Linked DNA regions of Homo sapiens: region 2 is linked to region 1. The links come from fine-mapping of genetic effects on gene expression. Tissue or cell type: whole blood. Region 1 holds a variant in brackets; the other region holds the start of a gene. All regions are shown on one strand. Distances are from middle to middle.

Evidence for each region. PIP is the estimated chance that this variant, and not a neighbour inherited with it, causes the effect.
Region 2: it holds the start of ZNF286A, and the variant in region 1 is the best candidate, but not a certain one, in a credible set for the expression of ZNF286A in whole blood (INTERVAL, PIP 0.78).

What each region holds. Positions count from the first base shown.
Region 1 is chr17:15,718,615-15,721,369 of GRCh38, reverse strand. It overlaps ZNF286A (zinc finger protein 286A), which reads right to left. Exons shown (of 6, transcript NM_001130842.2): 6 at 583-2,755. All of the region lies in intron 6 of ZNF286A-TBC1D26 (ZNF286A-TBC1D26 readthrough (NMD candidate)), which reads right to left. Among named protein-coding and RNA genes, the nearest start is that of TBC1D26, 12 kb to the left of the region's middle. The variant G/T (reference allele first, on the strand shown) is at 1,461.
Region 2 is chr17:15,698,314-15,700,917 of GRCh38, reverse strand. ZNF286A (zinc finger protein 286A) reads right to left here and starts at 1,166. Exons shown (of 6, transcript NM_001130842.2): 1 at 1,141-1,166; 2 at 552-783. The coding sequence starts at 588. ZNF286A-TBC1D26 (ZNF286A-TBC1D26 readthrough (NMD candidate)) reads right to left here and starts at 1,166. Exons shown (of 23, transcript NR_171000.1): 1 at 1,141-1,166; 2 at 552-870. RefSeq lists enhancers at 1,043-1,362, 1,373-1,422, 858-1,469.

The DNA of each region.
Region 1 (2,755 bases):
GCTGGAGTGCAATGGCACTATCTTGGCTCACTGCAACCTCTGCCTCCCGGGTTCAAGTGATTCTCCTGACTCAGCCTCCCGAGTAGCTGGGATTACAGCCATGTGTCACCATGCCTGGCTAATTTTGTATTTTTAGTAGAGATGGGGTTTCTCCATGTTGGTCAGGCTGGTCTCGAGCTCCTGACCTCAGGTGATCTGCCTCCCTCAGCCTCCCAAAGTGCTGGGATTACAGGCTTGAACCACCGCACCTGGCCCATTTTGCCTAATTTTAACTGTGCTTTTTATACGAAGTTATTCCCTCCCTTTCACCCCAATTAGCCCTACTGAGTAGTGCCTATACCTGGCCTGGGGACTCAGTACTACTTGTTAGAAACTATCTTCCTCTACTCCTTAACCTTCTTGCAGATACTTGGGTTGCTGACGGTATCTCCCATCCCATCTCTCCAGAAGTTGTGAAGCCAGATGACCAGCTAGAAATGGGATTGGTATCCTGAATGATATGGAGATATTTTTTGGTTGGTCCTTCATTACATCTTAAAATATGCTTTAAAAAAGGAAGAATTTAAAAGCAATTTACAAAAGTTTCTGACAATACATATACAAACATCTTTATTGACAAGTGAGCCAATAAGGGCACATTTAGTTTACAGATAACCAAAAACATTTGAAATGCATAACATTAAAATTTCCAAGATTCATGTTGCAGTACAAACATGTGGCAGGTTAAACATCAGGCATAAAAAGGACAAATACTGAAACGCAAAGGGCCAGAGATCCCAAGTCGCTTAACACTATTTAAAATGTTATTCAACTGCAAACTTCAGCCTCTGGAACCATCCCAGATAGCTACTGGTTAAGTGATATGAAGTAGGAAAAAAGAAGGTTCTGGAAGGTCTCAAGGAGGCTGTGCAGAAAACAGCACCAGATGGAAGCAAGAGCAGAAAGAAGTCACGTCCCATCTTTATGACAAGACACAGAACAAGATGGTCACAGTTCTTCATGGGTAAACAAAAGATGTGGAAGACACAGCCAACCTTAAGTAACTTCTACTGACGGATGCTCTGGCACTTCTCTATGTAGAGAAGGAGAGAGAAAGAGAGCACCAAGCAGGAGTGGGGGACTCTATATTTATTGTCTGCCAGTTCTTTTATATGCATTGTCTTATTTAATCCTTATGACAACCTCATGAGAAGCCAATGATTTATTCCCTTTGTTGAAACCTAATACAGATAAAGAAACTGAGACTCAGAGTAGGGAGTTTTTCCAAGGTCACATGACTGCTTAGTGGGGATGGCAGAATTCAAACTCAACTTTGGAAAGCCCATGTTGGTCTTCTTTCCTTAGTCAAATTTTGGCTCTCAAATGAATTCCTCTTCACTCAAGAATTTGGCAAGTTTCAATAACTTGAATTCTCCTAACAATATATAGTAACATCCTAGAGGTAGGAGTATTTTGATGCA[G/T]CATTTCCCATCTCTTTTATTTTTCTGTCCCCAATTATCTCTCAGTACTTTTCCATTCCACCTAGTTTCTCTGACTGGTTTAAACCCTTTATCTGACTTGATGAATGCTCTGGAACAGGGGCCAAGAAAATATTTTCTGTAAAGAGCCAAACAGTAAATATTTTAGGCTTTCAGGGACATACAACCTACTATGGGCTATATCCCCATCAAAGTCATATAATGAAACTTAACTGACGGTATTACGAAATGGGGCCTTTTGGAGGTGATTAGGTCGTGAGGGTGGAGCTCTCATGAATGGGATTAGTGCCCTTATAAGGGGCTGAAGATACCAGAGCTCTCCCCTTCTACCATGTGAAGACACAGTGAAAGGTGCTTTCTATTAACCAAGAAGCAGACCTTCCCTAGACCCTAAATATGTTGACACCTTGATCTTGGACTTCCCAGCCTCCAAAACTGTGAGAAGTAAGTTTCTGTTGCTTATAAGCTGCTCTGTTTGTGATATTAAAGCCCAGAGGCACAACCTCCGCTGCAGCTACTCAGTTCTGACACTGGACACAAAGGCAGTCAAGGACAACATGTAAATGAGTAAGTGTGGCTGAGTTCCAATAAAATTTTCTTCTGAGAAACAGGTGGTGGGCCAGAGTTGGTCCATGAGTCCAGGCCACAGTTTGTCAATTCCTGCTCTAAACCATTAGTACTAAATACTAAGATGATAAAAGAGGTGAGTTCCTTTTCCTGTGTTTTCTTTTCTTTCTTTTTTTTTTTTTTTTTGAGTAATGATACAGTTTAGATCTGTATCCCCACCCAAATCTCATGTTTAATTGTAATCCCCAATGTGGGAGGTGGGGCCTGGTGCAAGGTGACTGGACCACGCAGGTAGTTTCTCATGAATGATTTAGCACTGTCCCCCTACTGCTGTCTCGTGATAGAGTTCTCATGAGATTTGGTTGCATAAAAAGTGTGTAGCACCTCCCCTCTCTCTTTTCCTCTTGCTCTAGCCCTGTGAAGATACCTGCTCTGGCTTTGCCTTTTGCCATGAGTAAAAGCTCCCTGAGACCTCCCCAGTCATACTTCCTGTACAGCCCATGGAACCATGAGCCAATTAAACCTTTTTTCTTTATAAGTTACCCAGTCTCAGGCATTTCTTTATAGCAGTGTGAGATTGAACCGATACAGACAACAATAACAAAAAGTAGATAAATATGAAGGCCAGAGAAATGGCAACTTCTTCACGAAGGGAAGCTGCTTATCCTCAAGCAAGTCAGTTGAGGACTATCCTGTGAGCTATTTTCCGT
Region 2 (2,604 bases), 20 kb after region 1:
TCTGATCTAGAAATTAGAATATGTCAGTAAATTTCCCAGTTTAATCTATACTCGTTGGTTCTCACTCTGAAAGCTTATTTATAATGTAGATTGCTGGACCCCACCTCAAAGTAATAAGCATTAGTTGAGCCTGGGGTACAATCCAGAAATCTAACAACCACCCCAGGGGGAATTCTGGTGTAGGAGGTCACAGCACAACCTTCATGAAACTGGTCAGGTAGAATGGAAGTCAGTCATTAACTACTACGCCTGTTTTCTCCTATGTAAAACAAAACATTTTTGACAACCAAAGAGGTGAATTCTTGCCATAGAAGTTAACATTTCACTCACATTTTGGGGGTAGCTTTGAAGGGTCCACTGTGTGCCCAGCTGCCATGGAAAGGGCGGTGCTCCCATACCAAGCCCTTCAGTCTCACTTAAAAAGCCCATCCATCCCCAAGACAATGGAGACAGCCAGCCAAGAGCCACCTCCCCTGAGCCAACCGTTTTCCCTTCAGGAGCAGGAATTTCGTCCTTCCACGCTACAAGTTCAACACGTCCGCAATTCTCACCTCCTTTCTCAGGCATTTCAGCCAAATCTGTCTCCATGATCACCACCTCCTCCTTGTTCTGGAGATTCTGCTCTTCACCCCAATTCAGATCTCCCTGGCCAGACGAGTTAGAAGCCCCCCGGGCCTCGTGGTCCCACTTCCTGCCTTCCCTCCTGGGCTCTGATGAAAGGCCTGGGTTAGATCGGGTCTCTTTCTCACCGTGGAGTCTGCCTCAGTCCTACGGCGCTGGAGCCTGGAAGCCCGGGGACAGCATCCCTGAGGCTGGGTCCTCAGATGTCTGTCCCTACCGCTTGAAGCTGTCCCTGGGGGAACCGGGCACCTGGAAGAGGTGACGCTGGGGCATCAGGAGTTTGGACAAATTCTGCCGCGCTCGGGGCACTGGCCCAGAACCCCGCGACCACCCCGCCCGTGGCACAACCGCGTCCCCCGAGGAGAGGATCAGGCCAGAGTGAGAAGGGACAGGGCTCATGGTCTGCCCTCGAGGCCCCTTTAACAAACGCGCACTCTAGCCCCGACTCGGCACAGAACGACCCGGGGAACCACCGCCGAGGCCGAGCCGAGACGAGCGACATCACCACAAGCAACTCACCTCCCATCCCGGGCCTCACAAAGGGGACGAACTTCTTTGGCCAGCTCGGAGTCGCGCATGCGTAAGAAGGAGCGGAGCCAGGCGTGCTGCCCTCATCCCGCCCGGAACTACAATTCCCAGAAGCGCCTTGGCATCGCCAGACTCCGGTTCTCCGCAGGTGGGAGCACCCGTGGTGCGGCTGGGAGAATCGGACGATCGAAGAGCTCCGTCCGTCTCGCGAGAGTATGAGGCAGCATCTCCTGTGTCTAATCCTCAGAGCAAGGGAGGGAGGGAGCAGCGGAGACGCGGACCGGAGTCAGGGTCCGTCCCCGCGCTTTGTCTGCACAAGTTCCTGCGGCACAGTGCTTAGGGCTGCTGAGTTCAACCCAAATTACTCCGGTGTAAGATACGTTAAAATACATAGCTTTTATCCATATTTTGTGCGCCCAGAACTCATCCTTTTGCTTTCAAAACATACGAAGGATGTTTTTAGGAAGAGCAGGTCCCTCTTTGTACACTCAGTCAGATGTTCCTGTATCCACAGACTACTTGTAATCCTAAAATTCATGTATTTAAAATGAGTTGAAAAGATTGAACCTGTTGTAACAAATTTAAGCAATAGGTTCTTTGCAGACATAAGCATTAGTTTAAACATATCATAAAAGGTGGTTCTTTCAAGGGAGAGTTATTCAGTCTCTCCAATTCTGTTAGAGGACTAACCCATCCACCTCCAGCTTCGTGTCTAGACTGCCCTCCTTTTCTCAGTGAATGACATTACTGCCCACTCACTCATTTGCACAAACCAGAGCCTGAATATTCTTAACTCTTTGATCTCACCATCTATTTATCACCAAGTCCTATTCATTGTATCTTAAATAACTCAATTGTTTCCATCTTTCTCTATTCTCAGTAGCATTACCTTAGTTGGGGCCACCACCATTTCACTAGGATTGCCGTTGCAGCCTGGTAACTGGATTCCCTAACTAAGGTTTTCTCTACCACCAATCTGTTCTCCACACTTTCTGGCTAGTGCTCTTTCTAAAACAAGAATATGCTATTACTTTAGTGCTTCAAACCGTTCAGTGGCTTTTAGAAACTTCAAGGAAAGATGATTTCCAGCTCCCAGAAGGGATTTGTAACTCCCATTATCTCAGCCACCTGGTAGTTACACCTTTGTGCAATCCCCTCTTGTGTATGGACTGGGACTTGCTTCTAACCAATACAGTGCAATAAAGGTGACATAAAAGTCTAACGTGTGTCTTGCTAGGAGACTCCTCTCTTGCTGGCTTTGATGAAGTGGTGGTGATGTTGGGGAGGCCCATATGACAAGGAACTGAGGATGGCCTCCAGCCAATAGCCTGCAAGAACCGAAGGCCCTTGGTCCCACAACCTGCAAGGAGCTGAACCCTTTGGACAGCTCTGTGTGCTTGGAAGTGAATCATTGTTTGTAGAGTCTTCCCATGAGAACCCTGTCTTGCCTGACAT